Linked DNA regions of Homo sapiens: region 1 is linked to region 2. The links come from fine-mapping of genetic effects on gene expression. Tissue or cell type: whole blood. Region 2 holds a variant in brackets; the other region holds the start of a gene. All regions are shown on one strand. Distances are between the middles of the regions. Region 1 holds the start of PARP12 (poly(ADP-ribose) polymerase family member 12). Region 2 overlaps PARP12 (poly(ADP-ribose) polymerase family member 12).

Region 1 (11,029 bases), 29 kb before region 2:
TGGAATGTTAGGATATTGATTTGAGATCCTTTTTCATGTAGGCATTCACAGAGACATATTTTCCTTGAAACAATGCTTTCACTACATCTCATAAATTTGTTTTCATTTTCATCTATCTCAAAAATATTTTCTAATTTCTCTTGTGATTTCTTATTTGACTTATTATTTAGAAGTATATTTTCTAATTTTACATATTTGTGAATTTTTCAAATTTCTGTTATTGACTTCTACTTTTATTCCATTATGGCAAGAGAACATACTTCATATAATTTATTTTACGATTCTTGAGACTTGTTTTATAGCCTAGCATCTGGTATATCCTGGAGTATTTTCCATGTACACTTGAGAAGAATATGTGTTCTGCTCTTGTTGGGTGAAGAGTTCTATAGATGTCTTTCAGGTCTACTTGGATTATAGTATTGCCCTTCTATATCCTTGCTGATATTTTGTCTGGTTTTTTATTCATTATTGAAAGTAGATATTAAAGCCTCCAACTATTATTGTTGAATTGTCTATTTCTTCCTTCAGTTCTGTCAGTTTTTGCTTCATGTGTTTTGGGACTCTGTTGTTAAGTGCATTTAATTTATATTTATTATATATTTTTGGTAGATTCTTTGATCATTATAAAATGTCCTTCTTTATCTCTAGTAAGAATTTTTATCTTATGTCTATTTTGTCTGACATTAGTATAACCACTCCGGCCCTCTTTTGGTTACCATTTGTATGGTATATTTTTTCCATCCTTTTACTTTCAATCTGTTTGTCTTTGAATCCAAAATGTATCTTTTGAATGCAGCATACAGTTAGGTCATGTTTTCTATTTTTGTTGTTTGTTTTGGTCCATTATGCCCATCTCTATTTTTTAATTGGAAAGCTTAATCCATTTACATTTAATGTAATTACTAATAAGGTAGGATTTGTCTGCCATTTTTCTATTTTTTCTACGTCTTTTGTCTTTTTTTTTGTTTTTCAACTCCTCTAGTACTGCCTTCTTTTGTATTAAATAGATATTTGCCAGTGTGCCACTTAAATTATCTTATCATTTCTTTTTTTTTCTTTCTTTCTTTTTTTTTATTGAGATGGAGTCTCACTCTGTTGCCCAGGCTGGAGTGCAGTGATACGATCTTGGCTCACTATAACCTCCACCTCCTGGGTTCAAGCGATTCTCCTGCCTCAGCCTCCTGAGTAGCTGGGATTACAGGTGCCTGCCACCACACCTGGCTAATTTTTTGTATTTTTAGTAGAGATGGGGTTTCACCATGTTGGCCAGGCTGGTCTCGAACTCCTGACCTCAGGTGATCCACCCGCCTCGGCCTCCCAAAATGCAGGGATTACAGGCGTGAGCCACTGTGTCCGGCCTCATGTATTTTATTGGTTATTGGTTGCACTAGGAATTACCAGCAACATCTTAATTTATAAAAATCCAGTTTGGATTAATACCAATTTAATTTCCACAGAATATAAAAACTGCTTCTCTATGGCTTCACTTTCCTTCCCCATTTCCTTCTGCTGTTATTGTCACAAATTACATCTTCAAAACATTGTCCATCAACTTATATTTGTAATTACTGCATTATGTAGTTGTCTTAAATCAGATGATGGGGGTTACAAACAAAAAATACGTTTATACTGTCTTTTTCATTTACCTGTGTAGTTACCTTTACTGGTGCTTTTCTTTCTTCATGAGAATTCCAGTTGCTGTTTAGTGTCTTTCACTTTCAGCCCAAACGACTCTCTTTAGTGTTTCTCCCAGTGCTAGCAACTAACGGGCTCAGCTTTAGTTTATCTGGGAATATCTTAATTTCTCCTTCATTTCTGAAAGATAGTTTTGCTGGATATAAAATTCTTGGTTGATTCTTTTCACATTTTGAATACATCATCACACTACCCTCTGCATGCATGGTTTTTGATGAGAAGTTAACTGTTTTTATTTTATTGTTGATTCCTTGTGCATGATGAGTTGCTACTTTCTTGCTGCTTTCAAGATTCTCTTTGTTTTCAAAAGTTTGATTATGATGTGTCTAGGTGTAGATCTATTTGAGTTTTTCCTACTTGGAATTCATTAAGCTTCTTGGATGTGTAGATTAATGTTTTTCATCAAATCTGAGAAATTTTAGCCAAAATTTCTTCATATATTCTCGCTTTCCTTTCTCTCTCTCTCTTCTCCTTCTAAGACTTCCATTTTGTGTTATTGGTATATCTGATGGTGTCCCACAGGTCTCTGAGGCTCTTTTCATTTTTCTTTTTCGTTTCTGTTCCACAGACCAGATAATCATCAATTGATCTATCTTCAAGTTTGCTGATTTTTTTTTTCTTTCGCATGCTCAAATCTGCTGCTGAACCCTTCTAGTGAATTTAACATTTCAGTTATTGTACTTTTTGGCTCCAGAACCTTTATTGGTTCCTTATTATAATTTCTGTGTCTTTATTAATATTCTGTTTGGCAAGGCATCATTCTCATCCTTTCTTTTACATTTTTAGAGATGGTTTCCTTTAGCTCTGTGAACATATCAAAAATAGCTGATTTACACTCTTTGTCTACAAAGTTCAGCATCTGGGTTTTCTTAGGAACAGTTTTTATTGATTGCTCTTATTTCCTTTGTATGGGTCTTACTTTCTTGTTTCTTTGCAAGTCACATAATTTTTAGTTGAAAATTGGACATTTCAAACAATGTGCCAACTCTCAAAGTCAGATACTCCTCTCTCCTCAGGGTTTGATTGTGCTTATTTTAGTATTAGGTTGGTGCAAAAATAATTGCGGTTTGCACCAACCTAATAGTTGCTGTTTAGTAACTTTTTTGAACTAATTTTTTAAAGTGTGTATCTTCATTGTGTGTGACTATTGAAGTCTCTACTTGGTCAACTAATGATTAGATGGAGATTTCCTTAAACACCTGGAACCAATATGTCTCCTAGTCTTTGCCAAGGGGCTCTGTATGCACTTTGGGGTATGTCTTCAATTTTCATTAGGCAGTTTGCAACTCTGCATAGCTTTTATTTCCTGCTAGCACAGAGCCTCAGTGTCAGCTAGTAGTGAGAGGTTAGGATCTTCTCAGGTGTTAACAGAGCATGTGCACAGCCCTACACATGCACATGGCCTTCTAAATTCCTGAAAATATACTGGAGCTTTTCAAAGCCCCTATGGACATCTCTTCCTTCAACGTTTCCTTTTACATTTCTTTGTTAGTCTATTGTTTGCCCCTACCGTTACCTATTGCCTCAGCCAGTTACAATGTTAAAATATTTGACAAATCACTCCCTCTTCAGGTGGAAAAACCTTTAGGACTGAGCTAGTTCCAAAGAGGTTGAATAAAGACAACCCTTTTCAGGATTTTTTTCCAGGGACCCACTAGATAGGTTAAATAATGACTCTTCTTTGGGAATGAGACTTTGAAGTAGCTCCAGCCCTGTCTCCTCCCTCTGGTACAGGTACTAGGAACGTGGGCTGTAAGTTTTCAAGGCTGCCATGGAACTAGAGATGGGGGTGCGATAGGACTAGGGTAAATTAAAATACTATAAATATTGCTGTTCTTACTGAGAGTTTGCTGTTTTTCCTGACTAAATGCCAGATGGGTTGCTGCAAACCTGTGACTAATTTCTAGGGCTCTAAGAAAGTTGATTCTGACAATTTTTGTCAGTTCTTTCCTTGCTTCCTTTATGGAAGGGCAAACTTGCTGGGATACTTAATCCACCATTTTCACTGACATCACTCTTCCTTTCTTTTTTAAAAAATGTTATTTTATTGCAAAAAAATATGGAAACCACAACTAAAATTAACTTTTTTTTTGAGACGGAGTCTTGCTCTGTTGCCCAGGCTGGAGTGCAACGGTGCGATCTTGACTCACTGCAACCTCCGCCTCCCTGGTTCAAACGATTTTCCTGCCTCAGCCTCCCAGGTAGCTGGGATTACAGGCACACACCATCACACCTGGCTAATTTTTGTATTTTTAGGAGAGATGGGGTTTCACCAAGTTGGCCAGGCTGGTCTTGAACTCCTGACCTCAAGTGATCCACCCACCTCGGCCTCCCAAAATGCTGGGATTACATGCGTGAGCCACTGCACTCTGCCTAACATTTTAAATTAAAAATTAACATTTTAGGCTAGGCGTGGTGGCTCACTGTAATCCCAGCACTTTAGGAATCTGAGGTGGGAGGACTGCTTGAGGCCAGGAGTTCAAGATCAGCCTGGGCAACAAATGAGACAGTGTCTCTACAAAAAAATATAAAAATTATCTGGGCATGGTGGCACGTGCCTCTAGGCCCAGCTACTTGGGAGGCTAAGGTGGAAGGTTCGCTTGAGCCCAGAAGTTCCAGGTTGTAGTGAGCTATGACTGTACCATTATACTACAGCCTGGGTGACAGACCAAGACCTTGTCTCTAAAACAATAACAAAAACAAAATTAACATTTTATACAATGAAAACATTAAAATCACAATTAAAATCCAAGAGAAAACCCTTCATTCAATTTCCTAATTAAATAAATTCATTTTCATTTGTCCATGTTACTATCTAGTCTTTATCCATACACTTATTATTTACATTTTTGTAGTAATAGTACAGGTAATTTTTTTTTTTTTTTTAAAGATGGAGTCTCACTCTGTCGCCCAGGCTGGAGTGCAGTGTCATGATCTCCGCTCACTGCAATCTCTGCCTCCCGGATTCAAGCGATTCTCCTGCCTGTCTCCCGAGTAGCTGGGATTACTGGCGCCCGTTACCACGCCCGGCTAATTTTTACGTTTTTAGCAGAGACGGGGTTTCACCACGTTGGCCAGGCTGGTCTCAAACTACTGACCTCAAGTGATCCGCCCGCCTTGACCTCCCAAAGTGCTGGGATTACAGGCGTGAGCCACTGTGCCTGGCCTATAGTTAAGATTTTTATATTCATTTTTAGTGAATGTTATACCGTATACCGTAAGTACTCTCCCCCCACAATCCTTCTGCCTCTCATCTTCCCTTTTCCATTTTCCTAATACCTCCTACTGCCTCCTCTCAACTACCCTTGTGTGTTTCTTCATCTTTCTCCGTGCTTATTCAAAAATATCCTGCCACACACACACACACAGGCTTCTCTTTTTGTTATTCAGACATTTAAAAAAATTAATTCTTGATCATTCAACTTGATTATTTAGACATTTCTGTACAGCCATCTTTTCTCGTTTACCACCACATCATGGCTGTCTGCCCCTCTACATCCGCACACGGAGCTCTAACGCATGCTTGTTAAACAGCCTTCGTAATAGTCTTTAAAGATCAACCACACTGTTCCCACGTAACCCTACCTCCCAGGTAGGGTTCCCCCAGTAACACTTTCACACATAACTTATTTACTGTTCCTTTTACTTCTGGAAGATTCCGAGAGGAAAGATTGCTGGGTCAAAGGTCACACGCGTTTTCAATTTTAATAGCTATTCCTGGATTACCTCCTCAAAGGGCTCTAACAACTCGCATTGCTCTCAGCGTGTGAGAGGGTCCTTTGCTCTGAAGGGTCTTCTAAAATATTTGTTCAATCGTTACTTAGCAGGGGCTGGGAGTAACGGATTTTATTTTATTTTATTTTATTTTTTGAGACGGAGTCTCGCTCTGTCGCCCAGGCTGGAGTGCAGTCGCGCAATCTCGGCTCACGGATTTGCTCTTTTAAAGGACATACCCTTTTATGTTTAAATGAAGGAACTCATTGATGCACCGAGGCGAAAGGAACCTTTAATTAAGTGCGTCTTCTATGCGGAGTGATCGCTTTTGTCACTTGTTCGAGGGGTGAGAGCTCCCGTCAGTTGTCCCTGTTTCTGTGAGCCGTCTACGAAGCCCGGGCTTGGCCTGGGCGACGCTGAGCGGCTTTAACCGGCGGCGTCCAGCCGGCTCCGCCAGCGCTGCCGCCGCCCTCGAGGCTCCCTCTGACTGAAGGCGCGCTGAGCATCGCGGCATTAGGGGCTCCTGGTCCCTCAAACATCCAGGGAAGCCATTTTCAGGGACTAGGTACTGACCCCCGCGAGCCGCCACAGCCACAGCCCGCGCTCCGGGCCGAACGCCCGAGCTCAAGAGCTCCCGAGCTTCCGTCGGGCGGCGGCCTCACAGCTGGGGGCCCTGAGGCGGAAGGCGCAGCCGCTCAGCTGCGGACCGGGGGCGTGGCGAGGGCGCACAGGTTCTGTTTTTCGCCGGCCCGGGGCCGCTTTCGGTTTCGTTTCCCGCCGGCGTCTCCACCCTGCGAGAGCCGCCCGCCAGCCAGCGTCCGCCGCCGTCCGCGTCGCGCCACCCGCGGTCCGACGGGAGCAGGCCCAGCGGCCATGGCCCAGGCCGGCGTCGTCGGTGAGGTCACCCAGGTGCTGTGCGCGGCCGGGGGCGCCCTGGAGTTGCCCGAGCTGCGGCGCCGCTTGCGGATGGGCTTGAGCGCCGACGCGCTGGAGCGGCTGCTGCGGCAGCGTGGGCGCTTCGTGGTGGCGGTGCGGGCGGGCGGCGCAGCCGCGGCCCCGGAGCGCGTGGTGCTGGCCGCCTCGCCGCTGCGCCTGTGTCGCGCGCACCAGGGCTCCAAGCCGGGCTGCGTGGGGCTCTGCGCGCAGCTCCACCTCTGCAGGTTCATGGTCTACGGCGCCTGCAAGTTCCTGAGAGCCGGGTAAGGCGCCGCGCCGGGAGCGACGGCGGGCGGAGGTCCTGCGCGCCCTCACGCACTTCCAGCCCGCTTGGGGGTCCTACTTGAAGTTTGAGCAGACAATTCGGTGGCTCTGCCCTGACCTCGCACCGTCATTCACTAAAGCGAGCGTTTAATGAGCACCTGCGGAGTACCTGGCACAGTGCGAGGGACTCAGGGTCGAGTGGGGTCCTCTAGACGCCTGGGGGGAGAGAGTGATTTACATAGAGCATGGTAGTGCCGGGTGGAACACCCGGGTGTGGCCGTGTGGGGTGGGGAGGGAGGGAGGCGGCGGCTTAGGGGAACTCCACGACGCCGCGGGTCGCCCCTTGCCAGCTTTGAGGCCAGACAATGAAGGTTTTCTCTGCCCAGCAGCTGGTAGAGATCTTTAAACCCAGTTCAACCCTATTAATCTGCTTACAAACTGGAAAATGCAGACTCCCTGCCATCGCCCACAAGGTCCTGGGGCACTGGTCCCTGCCCACCCAGGACCCTTCTGTGACTGGAACACCCCCCCCCCCCCGGGCATTTCTGGGAGCCTGGGCATTTCTGGGAGTCTTTGCTCTGCCTGGAATGCCCTTCTTGCTCTTGGTTGGCCCTATTTGTTAATCCTTCAGGCCTCAACCTAAAGATCACATCCCATTTGAGGATTTTTCCTCCCCTTACTCTTGGTCACAGGGAACTGTTTATTTTCCTCATGGCACCCAGCTGCCAGTAGAATAGAAACTCCCTGAGGGCAGAGGCTCCAGCTGTCTCCCCAGCACTTAGCGTCCATGTTCTGTGCATAGCATGTGGCCAGTGGGATGTGTGGAAGGGATTGCTGAGGTTTATGCTAAAGAATTTGGGCCTCACCCTGGAGGTGATGGGGCGGGTAAAATGGCAGGAGAGAGCAACCATCAGGTTTGCGTTTTAGGAAGTCTAAGGTAGTGGTGTGGGTGCCAATTTAAGGGAGGATGTTGTGGGGGAACCACTGGGAAGCTAGTCATCAAGGAGAATTCCTTCCTCCCCTGCTCCCTCCTTTCTTGCTTGCTCCCTGTTTTGTGTGTGTGTGTGTATGTTTGTCTTAATAGAGTAGATATTTCTTGCTCATGTCAGGCCCAGTAGTGAGCATGGGGTGGGGGCCTTGATCCATACAGTCATTCAGGGATGCAGGCTGACTGACCTCCGCTCTGTGCCCCTCAGCACATGGCTCTTGAGGCCAGCCTAGGTTATCAAGTTCGAGGGGGCTGATCGAAAAGAGGGATGCATGGGAGGTTTTTGTGGGCCAGGTCTAGAAGTGGTGGATTTCCTTTCACCCACATCCCATTGACCAGAAGCTGTCTCGTGACCCTGTCTAGATGCAGGGTGACTGGGAAATGCCTCTAGGAAGCAGCTGTCTGGAAGTATCTAGATTAGAGCTTTCCAAGGGCTATGTGTGTGAGAAATTTGGGATAGCTGGTGACGGTGTGATGAGAGGATATGTGAGAGGTGACGACTCTTCAGTCTCTGTTCCTGCGGTGGCCTGGGTGTTGTTCACTGAGAGAGCAAGAGAGGGTTTTAGTTTGGAAGCATGCCCAGGAGGCAGCTGTTCAGGTCAGAAGCTTGGGAGGAAGGCCAGGGCCCCAATGCGCTGGGCTGGTTTGGGAGATATTGGGCGGTGTATGTTGTAGTTGCAGCCCCAGGAGTGGATCAGATCTGAGGTAGCGTCTGAGGCCTGAAAAGAGGCTGAGGGTGGAACTCTGGGGAAATCAGCCTTCAGGGATGAGGCAGTCCAGGGGAGAGCAGGGAACAACAGCCCACGAGGAGGAAGGCACACAGCAAATGGTGGCTGGATAGAGCCACTCATGGGGGTAACTGGTAGATCTGTTTCATGTTCATATTTGGTAAAATAAAGATGGCAGCCCTGTTCTTAAGCTAGTTCCCAAAATGTGGGGTCAGGTCTGACTTGTCTCGGAAATCTGTAGTGTGATATTTACTGGCTCAGATGACCTTGAGTTTTCTTCTTTCTTCAGTTTTCTCTTTTCCTTGTGGTTTACACAGGTGAGTTTCTTGAACCTTCCATTTCTGACTCACTTTAGGGAGAGTGGGTGTGGTTGGCTGCACTTTTCTGCTTCCCCTGTGACTCTGCTTGTCTTCCTGAACCGCAGGGTCAGTTCTTTTAGAAATAGCTCATCAGTCCTGCTGCAGAGCTGGTACGGAGTCCTGGGTGCCTGACTCTTAGTCCTCTACTCAGGAGGCATTGAGCCTGGTGGTCTAGGGCACAGTCCCAAGATCCAGCCCACCTTGTTTCAACCTGGGCTCTGCTCCTTGCTAGCTGATGGCTTCGGGCAAGTGACTTTACCTCCAGGTCTCAGTTCCCTCATCTGCAAAGTGGAGTTAATGATATTACTACCCTCACAGGCTGGTTGAGGACTGAATGATTAACTCATAAAACATTTTGGCAATCCCCGATATTTGGCAGTTGCTCAATAAATTTTAGTAGTCATTATCATTGTTACCATCAGTCATCGTTACACTTATTAGATATATTTGGCTCTGGCAGCACCAAATTATTTGCCCCTCTTCTGGAATGTTCTTCCTTTCTCTTGCTGTCTCCTCCTCACCCTTTAAGTATTCCACTCAGGCTTTATGCCATCCAGCATGCTCCCCTGATTTCTTCCCCAGTTCTCTCCCAGCCCTGACTGGCTCAGGTGCCCTTCCGCTCTGCGCTGACAGATTCTGACAACAGCTGACGTTGCACTTTCCACTCCGTATCAGAGTCTCCTCTATGTCTGTCACCTCCGCTAGATGAGGGAAAGAGAGCAGGCAAGGATGGCTTCAGGGTTTTTGGTCTGTGCAGTGGGAGAGGGAAGTTGCCTTTTACTGAGCTGGGGGATTCTGTAAAAGGTGCAGGTTTGGGGTGGATCAGGGTTTGGCATTCTCCTGAGATGTGGCATAGGAGGCATGGCAGTGCCAGAGTCAAACAAATGCTGTTGGCCTGACTCTTCTGGGTCCTGGTGACTCAGGCAGTCATTTAAAGGTTTATCTTTGGGTTCTCAGGGCATGGTGCCAATGTCTGGCTCACCCTGGTGCTTATCAGACGCTTGTGGATGGAAAGAATGGAGGAAGAGAGCAAAAAAAAAAAAGCTAGGTTCAGGGCTCTGTGTGTGTGTGTGTGTGTGTGTGTATACACGCCTGCACGCATGCACATATGTAACCTATAATGATAAGATGCCATGCTCATTGATTCAGCCTGTGGCTAACTGCTTACCGACTGACTGCTGTGCAGCAACTCCTCTTTGTCATTCTCATCAAATGCTTGTTCAGAGGCGCTGTCCTGGGCCTTAGACCTTGCAAGGCCCCATCTCCTCCTTGGTAAATACACATTGGATTTTTTGTTGTTGTCATGTAGACATGCTGGTTTTTCTTTTTTTCTTTCTTTTTTTTTTTTTTGAGACAGAGTCTCGCTCCTGTTGCCCAGGCTGGAGTGCAATGGCGCAATCTTGGCTCACCACGGCCTCCGCCTCCTGGGTTCAAGCGATTGTCCTGCCTCAGCCTCCTGAGTAGCTGGGATTACAGGCATGCACCACCTCGCCCGGCTAATTTTGTATTTTTAGTAGATACAGGTTTTCTTCATGTTGGCCAGGCTAGTCTCGAACTCCCGACCTCAAGTGATCCATCCACCCTGGCCTCCTAGAGTCCTGGGATTATAGGCGTGAGCCACCATACCCAGCCTACATGCTGGTTTTTCTCTGGTGCTTGTAAATACTGTCAGGAAGTGTTTCTGAAAAATTGTCATGAAGACTGATTTTATCAGCTTTCAGTTTGCCAGCGCTGCCATAACAAAGTACCATAGACTAGGAGGCTTAAACGACAGAAATCGATTTTGTCACAGTTCTGGAGGCTAGAAGTCTGAGATCAAGGTGGCAGGGTTGATTTCTTCTGAGGCCCCTCTCCTTGGCTTGTAGATGGCCACCTTCTCACCATGTCCTCGCATGGTCTTCCCTCTGTGTGTGTCTGTGCCCCAATCTCTTCTTTTTTTTTTTTTTGAGACTGAGTCTCACTCTGTTGCCCAGGCTGGAGTGCAGTGGCTCACTGCAAGCTCCGCCTCTCGGGTTCATGCCATTCTTCTGCCTCAGCCTCCAGAGTAGCTGGGACTACATGCGCTCACCACCACGCCCCGCTAATTTTTTATATTTTTAGTAGAGACGGGGTTTCACTGTGTTAGCCAGGATGGTCTCAATCTCCTGACCTCGTGATCCTCCTGCCTCGGCCTCCCAAAGTGCTGGGATTACGGGCATGAGCCACCGTGCTTAGCCAAATCTCTTCTTATAAGGACAGTAGTCTTGTGGGTTTGGGGCCCACCCTATGGACCTCTTTTTAACTTAATTACCTCTTTAGAGACCTTCTTTCCAAATAGAGCCATATCCTGAGGTCGTGGGAGTTAG
Region 2 (11,294 bases):
CTGAATGAGATGACACAGGGCTCTGGGCAACCCATGCAAAAGTAGGGTTCCCCGGTGGTGTCTCATCACAGCTCTGGTTGTTGGGGCCGGTCTCCTCCAGTCAGCCAACACCTGGAGCGTGCCCCTTTCTTTCCTGTGCTCCTCTTCCTCTGTGGCAGTGCAGAAACTCATGGCGAGCAGTTTGAGAATGTCTGGGGATGAACCGCGTGTGGATGTTATTGATATGCCACGTGCTAGTGGGGGCGTAGAAACACATGTAGGCTTGGTGGCTTCAGGCTGGACAGCCTAGGATGATCTGGTTTGTCTTGTCCTCCCTTTCCTACACGTTTCTGGTATAACCCCACATTTAGGTTTCTTTTTTAGTTTTCTGTTAATTGCCACTTCAAAACAGTTTTCTCTTGATTCCCAGAAAAGCTAAGTTTTTTCTGTCTGAGCTCAAGAAGTACTCCAACATTTCATGTCAAAATCAGACACCTGCTGGTCCTGCCACAGGACATGTGGGAATCTGTCATTCCTTCCACATCTCACTTGGTGCCTCCAGGTGCTAAACCGAGACCTTTCTCAGCTTAACACATAATATGGCTGCCATTGTTGGTTTCTCCTTCCAAACCTCCCACTGAGGGCAAAAAAACTCTTTGCTTTTTGCTTTCTGCTCATCCACCTGCATCTTCCCTCCCTCTGTGACCATCCATCTGCAGGGATTTTGACTGGAGGCCTGGGTCGGGGCAGGACGCCTGCATCTGACTGCTGCTTCTCCTCTCTGTTTCCCTGACTCAGAGCTTCATTTCCTCAGGCCCAAAGGGGAGGGATTGTTTTCTTTTCCTTTCCTCTTGTTGTCAGAAAGGGATTTTTATGCCACATCCTCTTCCTCCCGGACTCTAGTCTAATGGCTTGGTTTTGAAGGAAGACAGACTTCAGAGAGAGAAACTTAGGCGCCGCTATGAGACCGTAAACTAGGAGGCTGCTTTACAAACCATTATACCTCTTACACCCGCCCCTTATGGTCCTCATGGGGCCAACTCATGTCATCCCTCGGGCTTGGGCCTTGGCTCAGGCATCTTTTTCTTCCAAGAAACCTTTGCTGGGTCTCACCCTTCCTTGGTCATTCTTAGTTACCCATCTCAGCGTCTAGAGCACCCGTGAGACCTGTGTGGGACCTTGTGCTTGAGGCTTTGAAATATCTGGGTACTTTTTTTTCCCCTTCTCCATTGCTGGACTCAGTTGCGCAGAGGCATGGGTGACTCTTGTCTTGTCTCACTTTTGTTCTGTTAGTAACACCTAAAGCTTGTGACCCAGGAGAACTAGGATGGTAGCAGTAGGGGGAGCAGGAAAATTGACAGGGACAGAGGGAGTTAGTTGGTTATAGGTTGAATAACTTTAATTTTAGTTGTCAGTGTAATCTCAAATTTAATAAGAACGGTGATGATAATAGTAACATTTATTGAGTATGTTTTGTTCTGGGCACTGTACTAAGTGCTCCACATGCCTTATTTAAATGATTTCTCCAGCCCTGTGAGGACAATATAGTCCTGTTGTATAAAGGGATGAATATGGCCTAAGTACTATTATTCATATTATAAGCTTGAGATAACGGAGGCTCAGGGAGGTTAAGATAACTTGCCAAAGTTATAGAGCCAGCAGGTTTGGGAGCCAGAATTCAAACTCACTCCAGCTGAAGCTACGAGATTTCCTGTAGGTAATTGTGGAAGGATAGGGATTGAAATGGATAATTTAAAAAATAGATGAATGCTCCTAGGGACCAGAAAAAGAAAACCGCAAGGAAGAGGACCGAGCTCTGATTAAAGGATGGTTGCAACGTGAATAGACGGGTAAGACCAGCCTGGCTTGGGCTGCCCAGTCAAGCAGCACTCCAGAAGTCGCTGTTGCTGTTCTGCCGGCATTTGAATGGCTGCCGTGTCCTCTGTCCTAGGTGACTTGAGTGCCCTCCTCTCCGTTGCTCCCATCCCTGTCTTCCTGCTCAGCAGGACCCATATTTACTGCATTGTGTTTGCTAGGGCAGCTTCAGGAGACAGTCATGTTGCCTCCATTCTGTGCCTCTCTCTCCTGCCATACCATGCTCCCTGGCCTCCATCTTCCCCACCACAGGACTGTCCACCAGGAGCACCTCTGAAATGTGGCGTGGGTGCCACCAGCGTTTTTCCTCATCACGCAGTTTCTTGCCTTCATAAAGTGTCTGGCTTTCCATCGCAGGGCACGGTGCACCCTGTGACCACTGTCAGCAGTAGCGACGTGGAGAAGGCCTACCTGGCCTACTGTACACCGGGGTCTGACGGCCAGGCAGCCACCTTGAAGTTCCAGGCCGGAAAGCACAACTACGAGTTAGATTTCAAAGGTATCCTGTGCCCTGCCCTCGCCCAGCAGAGCCTGCCTGTGTTGGCTCTGTCCCTACACCTTAACCCTGGAGGAGCCGTGTGCACATACTGAGGGCCTGGGTGGGTACAGGAAAGAAAAGCAAGGTACCAGGTCCAAGGTAGACCTGGAGACAGATGACACTGGCCCTGTGCAGTGGAGGAAGAACTGCATCAAGGATGTGAGGAGAATGGACCCCAGGAGGGGCAGGAGCCCCAAGTGTGGAGGACAAGCAGGGTCAGCATGCATGTAGCATGGTTGTCCTGCTGTATCCGAGGACTAACCTGAGTCCCTGACAGGTGTCCGAGCAGCTCCGTCGTGCAGTGTCTGCCTTTCACTCCCTGCTGCAGCAGTGCTGCTGTCATCTTTTTTTTGAGACGGAGTCTCGCTCTGTCACCCAGGCTGGAGTGCAATGGCGTGATCTTGGCTCACTGCAACCTCCGCCTCCCGGGTTCAAGTGATTCTCGTGCTTCAGCCTCCCAAGTAGCTGGAATTACAGTCATGAGCCGTCACACCTGGCTAATTTTTTGTATTTTTCATAGAGACGGGGTTTCATCATGTTGGCCAGACTGGTCTTGAATTCCTGTCCTCAAGCGTTCTACCCACCTTGGCCTCCCAGTTTGCTGGGATTTCAGGCATGAGCCACCGCGCCTGGCCTGCTGCCATCTTTTCTGTAGGCGACTTTGGAGTTGATGGGTTTAACGGATGGTAGGACACAGAGTAATTGAAAGTCCCTGAGAAGCAGATTTTCGTGCACTCATGGTGTCCTGAGGCTGGGGCTGAAATGTTTCATCCTGGTTGCCTTACAGAGAGAAATAGGCCACCCTTTGGCCAGTTCCTCCAAGTGGCTGATGTGTGAGAATTTTTTTTTTTTTAAGTTTTAATTTTGTGTAGTTTCTCTTAAGCCATTTCCTCATGAGTGTATCGGTCCAGCTTTATTCAGTTCCGTTTTGCCTGTATTTCACATTTTAAACTCTGAGTCCTTCTGAATGTTCAGCATTTTATAAGGGAGTAAGTGGGCCTTCCTTTAAACACAGTTTATGGTTTTCTTTATTTTTGCAGACGTTTATTCTATGTGGAGTATAGTGAAGTGTCTGGTGAATTATCCTAAAACCACTTTGGCTGTCTGTTTCTGGCCTTGGTTTTGCTTGTGGTTTCGTGGCACTTGTGGTTTTGCTTAGGGTAGATCACTACCCCCTTGACATGCCCTTTACGGTGAAGTTTTTCTCCTCTAGAGTGCGAACTGCCTCTGCTGGAGAGCGCCAGCCACGTGTGGTCTGGTTTGCTTTCCACGGCCTGACACACACCAGTGCATGAGAGGGGACCAGTGAGAGCATAGACGTTAATCAAATCAGGACTGCCCTGAAGGTCAGGACTGTGTGGCAAGCATACATCTGACTGCTGCTGACAGCAATCTGGAATATTTCTTTTAAATATCTGGAAAATATCAAAACAGATAGAAATGTCAGATACTACCTTGATCATTCCCAACCTAGGCCACACCCTGGGGACATAACAGAACCTCATAATAGGGATGGGGAAGAGCACACACGTGCAGTTTATGATTCCTGCAGACTGACCGAAGCCCATTTGAGTGGGCACAATTCTTCTCCTTCTCCTCCTTCTCCTCCTTCTCCTCCTTCTCCTCCTTCTCCTCCTTCTCCTCCTTCTCCTCCTTCTCCTCCTTCTCCTCCTTCTCCTCCTCCTCCTCCTCCTCCTCCTCCTCGTCCTCCTCCTCCTCCTCGTCCTCCTCCTCCTCCTCCTCCTCCTTGTCCTCCTCCTTGTCCTCCTCCTCGTCCTCCTCCTCTTCCTCTTCCTCCTCCTCTTCCTCTTCCCCCTCCTCCTCCTCTTCCTCCTCCTTCTTTTGGTAGATACCAGTATCCATAAAAGAAGCTTGAGATGAATTGGCTTCTTCCCCCACAACTTCACTTCTAAGTATAAAGCAAGTCTCAAAGCAAACTGCCACACATATTTATTAGCTGTTTATTAGGAAGCAAGTACATTTAAAACACACAAAAGAGCCCAAATGAGTTGTTCTGAAGGTTTAGGGATGATTCAGTTCTGCCCTTTTAGGGACTCTTGTCATAAATGATTCACTCAAGGCAAATGCCAGGATTCCAGAGGCAGAATTCTAGCATCCTGTTAGGTGGTGTCTGACGGGGCAGAATTCCCCAAAGACAGGCTGTAGCCTAGGGTATCCTCTGGAAGGGTAAATTAGGGAAAAGACCTCACTTTACTGTGTCCATAGAAGGGTAGGGAATGTGTCTGACACACATTTAGCCAGTCCACGTATCTTAGCTCACTTTTAATTTCACCAGTGAAAGCCATTTAAGATTCATCACAGATGGCCAGTAGGCCAGTAACACCCATTTAAATATGCCAGTGAGAATGGTCTTGATGGGCGGCTGAGTAGTGGGTAACAGAAGGGGTCATGGTTGCTGCATCTGGATCATGGGCTCTGAATGAGAATGTGGATGGACCTCCAGGAATAGTGACCATCTCAGCTGCAACCTAAGAGACACACACTTGGATAACCATCCAGTTTATGCTCAACTGCAATAAGGCTAATTCTGGACACCTATAATTTTTAATATTAAAATGTTTTGTAAATGAAAACAAAATTAGTTGGGCATGGTGTCACAAACCTGTAGTCCCAGCTACTTGGGAGGCTGAGGTGGGAGGATTACTTGAGCTGGTGAGTTCAAGGTCCACTTGAGCAACAAAGCAAAAGACCCCATCTCTTAAAAAAAATGTAAGACTTGAGAGGGTTTTCCTGGCAGGCAAGGACAGAACAAACACTGCTAGGTATTTGTCATTTTTCAACTTGAGGGGCCAGTTCCCCCAACCCCAAATCCTCAGGATGAGTATGGGATTCTTGAGGGTGGGGAAGCAAGAAATTTGTTTATTAAAGATATTATTGGTTTAGAAAGGTTGATGAATACTGCCATAGTTTAACTAAAACAAAGTCATAAAACTTACATTAACTCTGAATCCCACTAACTCAAGACATGGTAGTTTGATCTCAGGCTGGGCTGAGGCTTTTTTATATCCAAGCTGGGAAAAATTGCCAAGCAAAATAATGGTTTAAACAAGATTGGAAGGAACAATTTAAAAGCACTCATGTGTAATTGATATGTCAATTACTAATCATTCCTCTATTCATTAAACCCAGTCTCCTAAGGATACCTATTTTCTTTATGAATATTTGAAATGTGTAAAATGGCCCTATTTTTAACAGACTGATTCTGGGTTTTACACATTTGGATAAGCTTTCAAATCTATCTAATTTGTGTTTATAAAACATTGCCATCCTGTGTGTATGTATATGTATATGTATATTTTTTCACTGGTTATGTTTTTTTTCAGCCTTCGTTCAGAAAAACCTGGTCTATGGCACAACTAAAAAGGTTTGCCGCAGACCCAAATACGTGTCTCCCCAGGATGTGACGACCATGCAAACCTGGTAGGTTGCAGTGGGGGGCTTGGTACTTAGGATGTAATCAGCTGGGGTGTGCTCTGCAGTGGTGACAGAAAACCTGCCTCAGACAGCACCCGGGCACCGTTGGCTTGTACAACGAAGTGCTCCCACACTCTGTTATCGTTTGTCTTCTACTAGTTGGACCAGAGTGGGAATTACCCTGTGGGTAGAAGCTTCGTGATGCATAATTAGAAGGCTGCCTGTTGTGATCTGCGATGATTCTCTGGAGAAGACAGACTCTGAAGGCGAGTCTAGACTTGAAGCCAACCCATCCGTTTGTCTTTTCTGTGGAATCATTGAGTCATAGACTTGAATTTTTTAAATGTTGAAATAATGAAATAATGATGGAATTACACCAATAAAAACTCATGTATTTTAGTATTTGAATATCACGGAATACCAAAACTCTAAAAACAGATATTGCAGTCACTAATGGGCGAGCTTCGTCAGGGTGAGTTTCTTTCAGTCCCAAGATGGCTGCCAGGAGCCACCAGGTTAGCCTGTGGCCTGTGAGCCCCTAGAAGGGAGGAGAGAAACCTCCTATAGCAGATGAGGGGAAATTCTT[G/A]TGCTTTGTACTGATCAGACCCTATCTCAACCTCTGGTGTTATTTTAGGCTTGGGGAGGTGGGATGGGATTGGAACTGAGAGGAAGGGGTCAGTGTTCTCCAAACCACACAGCCACATATTGGGGGAAGGTGGCCTGCATGGTGGAGAGGGACCACAGTGCCCATACAGTTTGGGCTTGCCAGAGCCAGTGCTGGGACTTTAGGCAGTGTTACTGGTAGCTGGCTGCACCTTCTGTTCGCCTGAGAGGTCTGGCTTGTGTCTATTTTATGGAGAACCAACAATGTCTCTTTTGGTTCTTTTGTTTTGTGAAGCATGCAAAGGTCGTTTTTAAATGAGTTTGGTACAAGATAGAGGAGAAAGGTATTATCAGTCCACGAAACTGCCTTGTGAGTCAGACCTAGCAAAGTAATTTCCTGGGAATGTGCCTTACTTTTTCCTTTTTAAATTAAAATTTATTTTTGCGCTGGGTGCAGTGACTCACACCTGTAATCCCAACAGTTCAAGAGGCCGAGGCGGGTAGATTGCTTGAGCCCAGGAGTTCGAGACCAGCCTGTGCGCCTGTAGTCCCAGCTACTCAGGAGACTGAGGTGGGAGAGACACCTGAGCCCAGGGAGGTCAAGGCCGTAGTGAGCCAAGATCACACCACTGCACTCCAGCCTGGGTGACAGAGTGAGACCCGTCTCAAAAATAATAATTATTATTATTATTGTTTTTGACTATGTGTAAAACCTTCACGTGATTAAAAGTCAAACCTATATAAAATGGTATCCTCTGTAGACTGTAACTTCCTCCCTGTTATCTCTACCCTGTTCCCACTGTGGGTAACATTAGTTTCCGGTTTCTCTTTTTTATGTTTCTCTTTGCAAAAATAAGCATTTGCATACATACATATAAAAGTATTTTCTTCTTGCACAAAAGGGAACATGCTATCTATACTGTTCTATACCCTTTTTTGTTTTCACTTAAAAATAGATCATGATAATCACTTTGTTTCAATTCATTAACTTCCTCAATCCGTTTCTTCTTTCCTGGTTCTCTGTAATATGTATGTACCATAGTTTACTTAATATGTCCCCTTTTCATGGATGTTTGTGTTGTTTTCAGTCTTTTGCTATTAAAAAGTATAATGTCGTGATGAACCATTTGATGTATGTGCTGTTTCAAATTTTGGAGGTATGGCCAGGTGCGGTGGTGCACACCTATAATCCCAGCACTTTGGGAGGCCAAGATGGAAGGATCGCTTGAGCCCAGGAGTTTGAGACCAACCTGGGCAACATAGCGAGACCCTGTCTCTTTTTTTTTTTAATTAAAAAAAACAAATTTTGGAGGTCGACTGTTAGGTCAGAGTCGTAGGAAGTAAACCAAATTCCTTTCCATGGGCTTGAATCATTATGCACACCCACTAGGACGCATGAGATGCCACAGAGTGAGTTGTCAGGCTCTTGGGCTTTTGCATTTCTCAGGGGTAAAGATGGGTCAGTGGACTTCAGTTTGCTCTCTCTTAGGAGTGAGGTTGAATATTATTTCTAACATGTAAGTGCCATTTTTGCTTCTTTTTCTGTGGACTGTTGGTCTTTTTATCCATTTTTCTATCAACTTTCTGGTATTTTTCTTAAATATCAAGAGCCTTTTATCTATTAGGGAGGTTGGCCCTCGTTTTGTTATATAAATGGCAAATATTTTCTCTTAGTTTGTTGTTTGCCTTTTGACTTTGCCTGTGAAGTATTTTACCATAAATATATATCTCTTATTATTTTAGTTAAATGTATCAGTGTCTTACTGATTCTGGATTTAGAGTTTTGGTTGATTATGACCCTCCTATTTCTGGAAGTCATTTTTTATTCTTTTCCTATACAAAGCCTACCCTAGACAAGGTTTGGAAAAGTCTCTCTGCTTTCTGAGAGTAGATCTCTCTTATTCTAATTTAGTTTTTAGGGGGCCACAAGAAGATGCCAAATGTCCAAACTAAAAGTGATTCAGACTAAGATATGGGTGATTTGGGGTCTCCTGTAAGCGGAGTGTCACACACTGTTCACACAGATGAAGTGTTCAGTTCTTCTCTCTGACCCATGTGCCAGCAGCTGGTTGTCATTAACTCCAGTAAGCAAGTCTGCCTGGGCCTGCATGGCCAATTGGGAATCTGAGGGTAGATCACTTTCAGAAACAACTTTTCTGTTTACACAATTAATGAGGTCATAAAATGTAATGTCCATATTCAGAAGTCATAATACAGGAGTGTCATGTAAAATTTATTTATGTATTTATTTATTTATTTATTTATGAGACAGGGTCTCACTCTGTCACCCAGGATGGAATGCAGTGACCTGATCACGGCTTATTGCACCTTCCACCTCCCGGGCTCAAGCAATCCTCCCACCTCAGCATCCCAAGTAGTTGGGACCACAGGCATGCGCCACCATGCCCAGCTAATTTTTTTATTTGTTGTGGAGACAGGGTCTCACCATGTTGCCCATCCTCTATGAAAATGTTTCATTCATGTGATTGGGTCTTATTTTTTCTTTTCTTACCTTCTTTTGTGTATATGTATATTTTAAAGGCTATGGTAGAAACTACATGTTCTTCACTTAAGTACAAGTAAATCAATATCTTTGCCCTCCTATCTTTTCTTCCATTTGCCTTCCTCTCAACTTTTTTTAAACCTCAAGAGGCACCATTATTTTATACTCTGAAAGTTTCATTAAATTTACTCACATTTTTACCACTTTGTCCTTTCAGATTACCTTAGATCAGGGGTGTCCAATCTTTTGGCTTTCCCAGGCCACATTAGAGGAAAAAGAATTGGTCCACACATAAAATACACTAACACTAACGATAGCTGAACTAAAAGAATAAAAACCACAAGAAAATCTCATAATGTTTTAAGAAAGTTTACAGATTTGTGTTGGGTCACATTCAAAGCTGTCCTGGGTTACATGCAGCCTGCGGGCTGCAGGTTGGACAAGGCTGCCTTCGATGAAGATTTGTTGGAAAACTGTTTTTGGTTTGTCTGAATATGTATGTACGTATGTATGTATGCATGTATGTATGTATGTATTTTGAGATGGAGTCGCACTGTCGCCCAGGCCAGAGTGCAGTGGCATGATCTTGGCTCACTGCAACCTCCGCCTCTTGAGTTCAAGCGATTCTCCTGTCTCAGCCTCCTGAGTAGCTTGGACTACTGGCGTGCGCCACCATGCCCGGCTAATTTTTGTATTTTTGGTGGAGATGGGGTTTCATTATGTTGGTCAGGCTGGTCTTGAACTCCTGATCTCAAGTGATCTGCCCACCTCGGCCTCCCAAAGTGCTGGGATTACAGGCGTGGGCCACTGCGCCTGGCCAACATGTATTTATTTTGCCATCAATCTTGAAGGAAATTTTCACTGGGTATAGAATTTTGGGTTGTAGGGATTTTCTCTTGGATCATTGTGATGATCACTCCACTGTATTCTGGCTTCCACTGTTGCTTTTGAGAAATTGCCTGTTGGTCTAACAGGTGCTTCTTTGACAGTAATCACTCTTTTTTCCTTTGGCTACTTTTAAGAGCTTCTGTTTGTCTTGGAGGTAGGCATCCTCACTAAAGTGTATCTAAGTATGTGCTTTTATTTATCATGGTTGAGATTCTTTGGGCTTCTTAAGCTGCGGATAGGTGCATCTCATCAGTTCTCTTTGAAAATCGCCTCCACTGTCTTGTCTCTCCTCTCCTAGAGCTTCACTTAGGTTCTGATCATATTCAAGTTCTCACTGTTCTCCATGTCTCAACTTCTTTCCTGCATTTTCCATTTCCTTGTTGCTGTGGGCCACATTCTGGACAATTTCATTTCACATATGTTTCAGCTCACTGATTCTTCCTCCAGCTGGTCTAATCTGCTATTAAGCCTGTCCACTACACTTTTATTATTAAAGATTGTACTTAATTCTGTAAGTTCTATTTGGTTCTTTTTTAGATCTTCCAGGTCTTTTTATAGTTTCCTGTTCCTTGCATATGTTTTTAAAGTTTGTCTTTTTTTTTCCTTTAAACATAGGAAGAATAATTGTTTTGTAATCTCTCTGATAATTTCAGCATCTTAAGTCTTTGTGGGTCTGTTTTTGGCTGATTCTTGCTGGTAGGACCTTGCTTAGTTATTTTTGAACTGTGCCATTTTCCCAGGAAAGTTATTTGTGGGAGTTCTTTGAGGCTTAGGATGAAGGTATATGTTTCATGCCAGCAGAAACAGAAGGTAGATCTATTTAGAAAGAACAGTGTATTCTGAAACTTAATAGGAATGATTTGTAATTATAGTTTCACAGTCCTTGTTCCTGAACCCTTGATCCATATGTCTTTTGAACTGCTTTTATTTAATTTTTAGAAAGATAATGTGATGCTTGTATCACGTGACACTCTGTATTTTAGCACATTAATATTTCTGCAGTAAACAATATGCATAGTCAGTTTAAGAAGGATAGATACAGATCACAGTGGCCTCTTACTAACTTCAGTCAAATTTCTACTGCCAAATGACTTTTGATGTCACTTTTATGTTTTTCAAAAAATGTTTTATTTCATATTTTCTCCTGCTTTTCCTGAGCTGTATAAAAAGTTTTAAAATGTCAATTATACCTCATCGAGGCCTTAAAAAAATGTCTTTAGAGCTCTTAGAATTTCAGAATTGTGGATAAAGGTTTATGGCTGTGTGTGTGCTCCTTTAACCATGTACTCCATCCCTTTTATCCCTTTTGTGTGGTAGTTGGGACACAGGCGAGAAATAGATCTCTCAGGACTGTTTGGAGTTTGGCTACATAGGCAAAGATAAAAGTGCTCTCATGTTGTGAATATCGTGCTAACATTCTTCCTTGCCTTCTACCTGCTCTTGAAATATGATGTGCTGAGACTCAAGACTGGT

Evidence for each region. PIP is the estimated chance that this variant, and not a neighbour inherited with it, causes the effect.
Region 1: it holds the start of PARP12, and the variant in region 2 is fine-mapped to the expression of PARP12 in whole blood (TOPMed, PIP above 0.99).

Annotation. Positions count from the first base shown.
Region 1 is chr7:140,058,101-140,069,129 of GRCh38, reverse strand. PARP12 (poly(ADP-ribose) polymerase family member 12) reads left to right here and starts at 6,179. Exons shown (of 12, transcript NM_022750.4): 1 at 6,179-6,608. The coding sequence starts at 6,283. RefSeq lists an enhancer at 6,032-6,241 and a silencer at 6,252-6,571.
Region 2 is chr7:140,028,774-140,040,067 of GRCh38, reverse strand. PARP12 (poly(ADP-ribose) polymerase family member 12) reads left to right here. Exons shown (of 12, transcript NM_022750.4): 7 at 2,212-2,353; 8 at 5,737-5,833. Among named protein-coding and RNA genes, the nearest start is that of PARP12, 29 kb to the left of the region's middle. RefSeq lists a silencer at 3,507-3,556. The variant G/A (reference allele first, on the strand shown) is at 6,414.